2 separate regions of the Homo sapiens genome follow, and region 2 is linked to region 1. A link means that fine-mapping ties the variant in region 1 to the expression of a gene that starts in the linked region. Tissue or cell type: whole blood. Region 1 holds a variant in brackets; the other region holds the start of a gene. All regions are shown on one strand. Distances are from middle to middle.

Region 1 (5,189 bases):
GTTTTTTAAAAAAATCAAAGTTGTACCCTAATAGAATATAAAAAAGTAGGCAGGTGTAAGAGAAAGGTGTAATGAGGTGAACCCCAATAGAAGGTATGATCAGAATTTATTCATAACAGGTGCTGTCTTCCAGTGCAGTGATCAGCTTGTATAGCACCAGAGATCATGGTATCTTTAACAAATTGTTCCGGCTAAAAAAACAGTTGTGGCCAGGCACAGTGGCTCATACCTGTAATCCCAGCACTTTGGGAGGCCGAGGCAGGTGGATCACCTGAGGCCAGGACCTTCAAGACCAGCCTGGCCAACATGGCAAAACCCCGTCTCTACAAAAAATACAAAAATTAGCAGGGCATGGTGGTGTGCACCTGTGATACCAGCTACTCGGGAGGCTGAGGTGGAAGAATTGCTTGATCCCAGGAGGCAGAGGTTGCAGTGAGCCAAGATTGTGCCACTGCACTCCAGCCTGGGGAGACAGCAAGACTCTGTCTAAAAAAAAAAAAAAAAAAGTCGTGCTTCCTACTTCTTAGTATTTGGTGGGTGTGGGTGTCTTGGTTCATGACCATTTGCCACACCTGTTCTTCCTTTCTCCTGAAGATTCTGTGAGTCCCCTATGTTCTTCTAAATAACTTCATTTTTGCTTAAGACAGCCATGGTCTGTTTCTGTAATTTTTTTTTTTAAAGAGACAGGATGCTTGCCATGTTGCCCAGGCTGTAGTGCAGTGGCTATTCACAGGCACAATCATTGCACACCACAGACTCCAACTCCTGGCCTCAAGTAATCCTCTTGCCTCAGCCTCCTGAGTAGCTGGAACTGCATGCGTGAACCACCGTGCCTGGCCTACTTCTGTAATTTTTAAGGAAAAGTTTTCTAAGTGATATCACACACACAAACATGTGCCCATGAAAACGTAATGATTCCTTCACCAAACATCTGTGGAGACTTTGTGTCAGGCTCTACTCTAAATATGAGGATAGGATACAAAAACAAAAGAAATCTATGTCAACTAAGAGCAACTGAAGGAGGAGCAGTTTGGGGCAGGAAGATGATGTTTAGGACATGTTGAGAATGAAATGTCTGTGAGATGAGACATCTTAGGCAGAAATAAATATTTAGTAGACATTTGGATGCTCTTTTTTTGTGTGGAGCTTAGCAGAGACGTCTGAGCTGTAGGCAAAAGAAAAAAATAAAGGGGCTCAAAGTGGAATCAGGATATAGGAGGAAGAGCACATTTAAAGGATGATGGAGGGGCCGGGTACAGTGGCTCACACCTGTAATTCTAACATTTTGAGAGGCTAAGGCGGGCAGATCACTTGAGGCCTGGAGTTCGAGACCAGCCTGGCCAACCAACATAGCAAAACCCGACCTCTACTAAAAATATAAAAAGTAGCTGGGCATGGTGGTGCACTTCTGAAATCCCAGCTACTAGGGAGGGAGGCTTAGGCAGGAGAATCGCTTGAACCTGGGACATGGAGATAGCAGTGAGCCGAGATTGCGCCACTGCACTTCAACCTGGGCAACGGAGCAAGACTCTGTCTCAATAAATAAATAAATAGGCCAGGCACGGTGGCTCATGCCTGTAATCCCAGCACTTTGGGAGGCCAAGGCATGTGGATCACGAGGTCAAGAGATCAAGACCATCCCGGCCAGCAAGGTGAAACCCTGTCTCTACTGAAAATACAAAAATTAGGTGGGCGTGGTGGTGGGTGCCTCTAATCCCAGCTACTCGGGAGGCTGGGCAGGAGAATCGCTTGAACCCAGGAGGCAGAGGTTGCACTGAGCCAAGATGGTGCCACTTCACTCAAACGTGGGCGACAGAGTGAGACTCTATCTCAATCAATCAATCAATAAAGGATGGAGGAAGATGAACCAAAGGCAAATAAAACTCTGAAGGCAGTGCTATCTAAAAATAAAAATAAAAAAATAAAATAAAATAAAAGGAAAGGAAAACCAGCCAGGAAAGATGCAGTGCAAACCACAGGAGGGACTTTCAATGAGAAGGCTGTCAAATAAAAATGTCCTTGAAGACCTCAGCAAAAGCTACTTCAGGGAAGTAGTGGGTTGAGGATAGAAGGAAAGAAAGTGGAGGTGGCAAATGTAGCATCCTTGCAAGAAAATTGACTGAGAAAGGAAAAGGGGAGGGAGTGATGGAGGTGGAAGTGGGGAGATGAGGATGAAAGAACGAATTCCAAGACAGGAGAGATGACAGGGTATTTCTATGCTGAGGACGGAATGAGGGCAGTGAAACAGAAATGGATGCAAGTTCTCAAGGAAGGTAGGGGCCGGGGAGGAGAGGCAGGGCTCATAAAGAGGGATTGGCCTTGGAGAGAGGAGGAAAACTGCTCACCTGAAAAGGCAGTCAAGGGGTGGAAGGACCCCTGCATACAAATTTGTAGGTGTTACTGAAGAGTCGGTACACAGGCTCAG[T/C]GCTTCTAAATTATGTTTCTCTGTTTTGGTTTGGGTGATGAGTTGTTGATATGATAAAGTGATTTGTTGCACTGACTCTGGAGCCAGAGTGCCTGTGGTTGAAATCCCACCTCCACCACTTAATACCTGCTTGATCTTAGTTAAGTTACGTAATCTCTCTGTGCTTCATCCTCCTTATCTGTAAAAGGGACTAGGGGATAGAGAAGGCTGTCACATAGTGATATGGAAGTGGTTTTCTTTCCTTCCTTCCTTCTCTCTCTCTCTCTTTCTTTCTTTCTGTCTTTTTAAAATTTTTATAGAGACAAGGTCTGCCTATGTTGCTCAGGCTGGTCTCGAACGCCTGGCCTCAAGCAATCCTCCCACCTCAGCCTCCCAAAGTGCTAAGATTATAGGCGTGAGCCACCGCGCCCAGCCATGTTTACTATTTCCACTAGATTGTCATCTCCATGAGGTTGAGGTTTTCTATTTTGTTTAGGGCTGTCTACTCAGAGCCTGGCACAAAGCATGTGCTCAACGAAAATTTCCTGAATGAGTAAATTGGGGTGAAATTCTTGGGAGAGGGGCTCAGGGGGCTGGAATCCCTATTCCTGCGTGGGACTCCGGGCCACTGGGCGGCGTCCTGGGGTCTGGGGAAGGGCCTCCCCCTGCGCCGAGAGCGTGCCCGGGCGGGCGCGGTCCAGGCGCTGAGCCCCTGGGGCGCTCCCGTGGCTCCTCCCCCGGCGGGCGTGTAGTGTCGGCCCAGCGACTGCGGGAGGCATCCCGGAGCCGGCCGGGCGGGGCGGAGTCGACGCTCGGCCCGGCCTCTGCTCACCTCATCCACGGGAGACGGAAGTCTTGGCCCTGCTCCGCTCCCCCGAGAATCGGGCCTCGCCCTGCTGGGCGGCTGGACCTGGGCAAAGCCTGGGCGCGCTCCCGCGCAGCGGCGCCATGAAGCGCTCGGGGACTCTGCGGCTGCTCTCGGACCTGAGCGCCTTCGGCGGCGCGGCGCGGCTCCGGGAGCTGGTGGCCGGGGACTCAGCGGTCCGAGTCCGTGGCAGTCCGGACGGCCGCCACTTGCTGCTCCTGCGACCCCCTGGGGCGGTAGCCCCACAGCTGCTAGTCGCGTCGCGAGGGCCCGGCGCGGAGCTAGAGCGGGCCTGGCCGGCCGGCCAGCCCTCCCCGCTGGACGCCTTCTTCCTGCCGTGGCCAGCGCGGCCGGCGCTGGTGCTGGTGTGGGAGAGTGGCCTGGCCGAGGTGTGGGGCGCGGGCGTGGGGCCTGGCTGGCGGCCGCTGCAGAGCACCGAGCTGTGTCCGGGCGGGGGAGCCCGCGTTGTGGCAGTGGCGGCGCTCCGAGGCCGCCTGGTGTGGTGCGAGGAGCGGCAGGCCCGGGCCGAGGGCCCGTCAGGGTCGCCAGCAGCCGCTTTCAGCCACTGTGTGTGCGTCCGGACTCTGGAGCCCAGCGGGGAAGCTAGCACCAGCCTGGGCCGCACACACGTCCTGCTGCACCACTGCCCTGCCTTCGGGCTGCTGGCCTCCTGCAGACAACTCTTCCTGGTGCCCACTGCCACCACCTGGCCTGGCGTGGCCCACGTTCTACTCATCTGGAGCCCAGGCAAGGGCAAAGTGATGGTGGCTGCCCCACGGCTTGGTCTCTCCTACAGTAAGAGTCTGAATCCTGGACGAGGGGACACATGGGACTTCCGGACCCTGCTCCGAGGCCTTCCTGGGTTGCTGTCCCCCAGGGAGCCACTGGCTGTACACACCTGGGCCCCAACTCCCCAGGGCCTGCTGTTGCTTGACTTCGGGGGCACTGTGAGCCTATTGCAGTCCCACGGTGGTACGCGGGCTGTGGGCACCCTGCAGGAGGCACCTGTAGGCCCGTGGGGGTCTGCAGCCCTAGGCACATTTCAGGGCACTCTGGCCTGTGTGCTGGGCTCCACATTGGAACTGCTGGACATGGGCAGTGGGCAGCTGCTGGAGAGGAAGGTCCTAAGTACAGACAGGGTACATCTGCTAGAACCGCCAGCCCCCGGCATGGAGGATGAGGAAGAGCTGGAGACCCGAGGGAATCTTCGTCTGCTTTCAGCCTTGGGTCTGTTTTGTGTGGGCTGGGAAGCCCCACAGGGTGTTGAGTTGCCTTCAGCCAAGGATCTGGTGTTTGAGGAGGCCTGCGGGTACTACCAGCGGCGGAGCCTGCGGGGTGCCCAGCTCACTCCAGAAGAACTGAGACACAGCAGCACATTCCGGGCACCTCAGGCTCTGGCCTCCATCCTCCAGGGCCACCTGCCCCCATCTGCACTGCTGACCATGTTGAGGACCGAGCTTCGGGATTACCGAGGCTTAGAACAGCTGAAGGCCCAGCTGGTGGCTGGGGATGATGAGGAGGCTGGTTGGACTGAGCTGGCGGAGCAGGAAGTGGCACGCCTGCTGAGGACTGAGTTGATAGGAGACCAGCTAGCCCAGCTCAACACCGTTTTCCAAGCCCTTCCTACAGCAGCCTGGGGTGCCACCCTCAGGGCCCTGCAGCTCCAGCTAGATGGGAATGGCAAGCTGAGGTCCCAAGCACCCCCTGATGTGTGGAAGAAAGTGTTAGGGGGAATAACCGCTGGAAAGGAACCCCCCAATGGAATACTGCCCCCCTTTGAACTCCTGTGCCAGTGTCTGTGCCAGCTGGAGCCTCGATGGCTGCCACCCTTTGTGGAGCTGGCACAGCAGCAGGGCGGGCCGGGCTGGGGGGCAGGGGGCCCAGGACTGCCCCTGTATCGCCGAGCTCTGGCAGTGCTAG
Region 2 (5,115 bases), 680 kb after region 1:
AATCCTGGCTAGAACCAGAATCCTAAAGGTTTCCTGACTACAGGTACATGCCACCATGCCCAGCTAATTTTTAAATTTTTTGTAGACAGAGGGCCTCACTATGTTTCCCAGGTTGGTCTTGAACCCCTGACCTCAAGCAATCCTCATGCCTTGGCCTCCCAAAGTGTTGGGATTACAGGCGTGAGCCACTACATCCCACCTGGGGTTTCTTAGTGATGATGAAACCTAGCCTTTATGTGGAAGACTTACAACTTTTTGAGGCCAGGAATTAGAGACCTTGTGCCATGAAAATAATTTGGTCCTTCCCTAGTACTCAATTTTTACTTCTCCTCTAAGGAGCTTGACTTGTGGAATGGATAAATTTCTAAGAAACGAGAGATTGGCAAAAATACGTGTCACTTTTTATAGTACTTGGAAAAGCAGGATCAAGATAAAGGCAGAACTATGGACTTTCTTAAGCTGAGGGAAGACTGACTTAACTCTTACCTGTTTCCCATTTTTCCAACACTTAAGCCAAGAACAACTTCCTCTGGGCTCAGATGTGGGCTAGACTGGGCCAGGCTGTAAAACACTTTGACAGGTTTTTGAGAGGAAATTGACTGCTAAAGTCAACTGTGTTATTTGCCATGGGTCTTCCTTTGTCCATTTATTTTACCAACTTTTTTTTTTCTTTTTTTTTTGAGACAGAGTCTCACTCTGTCACCTAGGGTGGAGTGCAGTGGCACAGTCTTGGCTCACTGCAACCTCTGCCTCCCAGGTTCAAGCGATTCTTCTGCTTTAGCCTCCTGAGTAGCTGGGACTACAGGCATGCACCACCACGCCTGGCTAATTTTTTGTATTTTTAGTAGAGATTGGGTTTCACAATGTTGGCCAGGCTCGAACTCCTGACCATGTGATCCGCCCACCTCGGCCTCCCAAAGTGCTGGGATTACAGGCAGGAGCCACCGCACCTGGCCTTTTTTTTTTTTTGAGACAGGGTCTCACTCTGTTGCCCAGGCTGGAGTACAGTGGCACAATCAAGGCTCATTGCAGCTTCAATCTCCCTAGCTCTGGTGATTGTCCCACCTCAGCCTCCCAAGTAGCTGGGACTACAAGTGTGCACCACCATGCTTGGCTAATTTGGCTAATTTAGTTTTTTTATTTTTGTAGAGACAGGGTTCTCTCCATGTTGCCCAGGCTGGTTTCAAACTCCTGAGCTCAAGGGATCTACCTGCCTCAGCCTCCCAAAGGGCTAGGATTATAAGCATGAGCCACCACACCTGGCTATTTTACCAACATTGATCAAGCTCTGGTTGAGCCTTGTACAGGATATTATAGGCTTTAAAAGAAGAAGAAGAAAGACCTGGTATGCTGTACAAAAAACTGCAAACCAGGCACGCAGATATAAGTGTTACAAGAATCCAGAAGAAGCAGCAAGGAGATGGGGCTAGGAGTTTGTAAGCAGGGAACTGTATCTGTAATATGTAAATGAAGTTACTGGGCATCTCTTCAATGGTCAGTGTGAGTGGAATGTGTGGGAAAATGTAGTGGTGAGAGGTGAGATAAAGAGAAGTAGACAGGGACGAAGTCACAGAGAGGACCGTGTTGGGAAGTTTGGACTCTCTATTCTGTAGGTAGATGAAGTATTTAAAAGAAGAGGCCATGATATAGTAATATTTGGTTTAATGTGGTATGGTTGTAGTGTGTGGCGGAAATTTGAGAGGAAGAATTGTCAACTTGCAGGGCAGCAGGGAAGCCATTTGTATTTAGCTAGAAGAACATGGATTGAAGCAATGGATGATGGATTTCAGAGCAATTTGTGAAGTAGAACCAGAATTTTGTCCGTCGAACTTGGGGTGACGAAGCACTATGCCTCAGATAAAGGTACTATCTTCTAGGGAATTCAAACGGACCTAAGCTGCTATTTGGGCAGTTGAGACCAAGAGAGGCATCCTGGTAATAGTGCTGTGCTTCAAGACAAAAGACATTAAAATATTTTTACATTGCAATTGTTTTCCTCTTCAGGAGCGCCTGGTTACCTTTCAGGAATAATTTATTTTCCAACACCCTTGAGAAACATTAAACCTTTTTTCTTTTTTTGATGTGGAAAACTGGAAAACTAGTACTTCCGCCACACTCAAGATGGCTACATCAGAAATAGACTTTTCCATCCACCTGGGTGGCCCCGCCCCCTTATGAAGCTGCTTCCGCCACTCTCTGCGGGTTGGGACGAATTTTACACTTCTTCGCAGCATTCAAGATGGTCCGGCTTCCTCCTACTTTTTATTGGCTGCATCGCTTCGTCTTCAGGGGAAGGCGGGACTTATATTTGATCGACAGCTACATTGATCAATGGACAAAGGGCAAAGGCCAATGAAGCGCTGGAACTGGAGAGTCTCTCGCGTGTCTGGGAGGGTGTTTTGCGCGGGGCGGGGTGGAGCAGAGCCGGAAGCGGGAGGGGAGCGTCAAACAGGAAAAGAAGGGAAGAAGGAAGAAGAGGGTAGAGGAGGAGAGGGAGGAGGAGGAGGGAGGTGGCGGCGCCGTGGCGGAGGAGCAGGAGCAGGAGGGGGATGGAGAGGAGAAGGCTCCTGGGTGGCATGGCGCTCCTGCTCCTCCAGGCGCTGCCCAGCCCCTTGTCAGCCAGGGCTGAACCCCCGCAGGTAAGGGGGAGGGGGCGTCTGGGCCATGTTGGGTCCTGGGGGTCGTCGAGGCCTGGCTGGAGGGGTCTGAAGGAGTGTTGTTGCCAAGAGTTGAGGGGTCCCGAGAGGGGCGTCTATGCCTGGCGTGGACAGGATCTAAAGGGGCGTCGGTATTTAGCTGAGGGACACCTGTGACAGTTTTGGTGTCAAGGAGGTGGCAGAGGCATGATGCCAAGCGAGTGAGGGGCGTTTGAGACGGCAGGTTGGTTAGGTGGGCTGGGGTGACTGTGGCTGGATAGCGGTGCCAAGCTGAGGATGTGGGCCTTATTCGTGTCCCTCTGTGGAGCAGGTGTCCCAGGCAGTAATGCAGTATGTACGTCTGTGTGTGTAGGGGTACACAGGCTATTGAGTTGGCCTGTGAGGGAGGGGATCCTGAGGATATTTCTTTAAGGATGGACTGGGGAAAGTTCCGAGGGCATCTTAGTACGTTTAAAAAAAATTACTATGTTCCTGGGAGAGACTTGGCCCCATTTTAAAATCTGTAAGCCATGGCGCACTTGGTTGGAGGGAGGACTCTCAGAAGGCAGGTGGGATGAAACAGAGTGGAACCCCTCAGGAGGAGGAGCACACTTGAGCTGTAACAAGCTCTTGCTGTTAGGCTGGCTGGCCTGGGAGAGCAAGTCACGGATGCTGATCTGAGCCAGCTCAGGGCTTTTGACCAGAGGGTGGTTCTGATGCCAATATGGGCAGCAAATGGAGCACCCTAGCTTTTCTTGCTGGGTGGCTTGCTCTTTATCCAGGCAGAGAAGCTTGCTTGTGCTGATTCCAGCTCCAGCTGGCATTTCAAAACCCTAATGGGAGCGTTACTCCTGGTGCCAAGTTGGGTGGGGTGCAGTGGGGGCAATCACCCCTCCTTCCTTGCATGTGGCAAAGCTTTATGATTCTTTTTTCTTCACTTTCTGTTCTTTTCCCCGTTTTTTCAGAAAGGCATACACACATAGACGCATAGCGTAGTGGCAAAGTTTATACAACTTAGCGCTTGAACTTGTGTTGTGAACAAGAGCAGAAACTGAGTGCCAGCAAAAATACTTATCTTTTCCCTAGGAGTTTTAGGGCTGCCTTTTCACAAATACATCTTGTTTTGCCCATTATCCTCTATTTTAAAATACTGATTAAAAAATAAGTTGAAATTCACATGACAAAAACCATTTTAAAGTGAACAATTCAGTGGCATTTAGTACACTTACAATGTTGTGCAACTACCACCTCTATCTAGTTCCAAAACATTTTCATCACCCCAATAGAAAACCTCGTCCCTACTAAGCAGTTACTCTCTGTCTCCCTTTTCCCCCAGCCCCTGGCAACCACCCGTCTGCTTTCAGTCTCTATGGATTTATCTATTCTGGATATTTTATATAAACGGGATCCTACAATATGTGGTCTTTGTGCCTGGCTCCTTTCACTTAGCGTAATGTTTATAAGGCCCATCCACATCGTAGCATGTACTAGTACTTCATTCCTGTTCATGACCAAGTAACATTCTGTTATCTGTAAACCACAATTTATTTATGCATTGAAGTGTCTAATTTTTCCTCAGGATATGTTTGTGTATACTAGAAATACCATGTGAAAGGAATGTAGCTCATTTTCTAGCCCAGTGTATTCCCTTTTCGAGGGTTGGGACCCTTCTGTTTTAGCCTTTGTTGGGGTTGTTTTTCCAGTGGAAATCATAAACTGGCAGAAGAAATATATTTTTTTTGTTTACTAGAAATGTTATAGCCCTCAGGACCAGTAAAGTTAAGTATAGGTATTGACAACAAAATATAGAATATAGTAAATACAGAATTTACTTTTCCTTTGCACATGTCTGTTTCTGTAAGTATCTCGAAAAGGCTGTCCCCAGTAACCAATAAATAACATCGGTAGAGGTTTGGTTTAGGAATGTCAGAGCCTTTGGAGATGGGCTGGTCAAAGATAGGAACTAGATCCACTTTTTCAGCAACGGGGATGATGGAAAGTGGAGGTTCCTACCAGGTCGTGGAGCCTGGGAGGTGTTGTGAACATGTGGAAGGGGATTGTTAATGTTATATTCTAATTGCAGTTTGCAAACCACAGGCTGCTTTCTTATATCTGTGGCACTTCTAATACTTAATTTTGGGGACAGGTGTCTTTTGTACTTTGTTCCATTTGGATGAATGCTATCACTGACCAACAGCTGTTACACGGTTACAATTCCTGCAGAGAAGGGAAAGTTTTCGTAATGAGCAGTGGCCCTCTTCCTAACCAGCCCCCACATACCCTCACTCCTGACGCTCCCTATACAATTCCATCCCCCACCTTATACTCCTGTCTCTTTCTGTCTGGGAGTACTAGATATCTATAGTGAGATTTCTGTTTTGAATTTTAACCTTCGGAATGCAAGTTACTATATAATTATTAACTCTGAATCCACCGCAATTTAGTCAGTGTATTTTTTTGGGTTTTTTTGGGGGGGGTG

The links. PIP is the estimated chance that this variant, and not a neighbour inherited with it, causes the effect.
Region 2: WBP1L starts here. The variant in region 1 is fine-mapped to the expression of WBP1L in whole blood (TOPMed, PIP above 0.99).

The regions. Positions count from the first base shown.
Region 1 is chr10:102,062,123-102,067,311 of GRCh38, forward strand. HPS6 (HPS6 biogenesis of lysosomal organelles complex 2 subunit 3) reads left to right here and starts at 3,227. Exons shown (of 1, transcript NM_024747.6): 1 at 3,227-5,189. The coding sequence starts at 3,353. RefSeq lists an enhancer at 2,719-2,768 and a silencer at 2,979-3,648. The variant T/C (reference allele first, on the strand shown) is at 2,426.
Region 2 is chr10:102,741,505-102,746,619 of GRCh38, forward strand. It overlaps WBP1L (WW domain binding protein 1 like), which reads left to right and starts at 2,444. Exons shown (of 4, transcript NM_001083913.2): 1 at 2,444-2,639. The coding sequence starts at 2,550. SFXN2 (sideroflexin 2) reads left to right here. Exons shown (of 12, transcript NM_178858.6): 12 at 1-1,988. RefSeq lists enhancers at 2,091-2,140, 3,081-3,310 and a silencer at 2,421-2,580.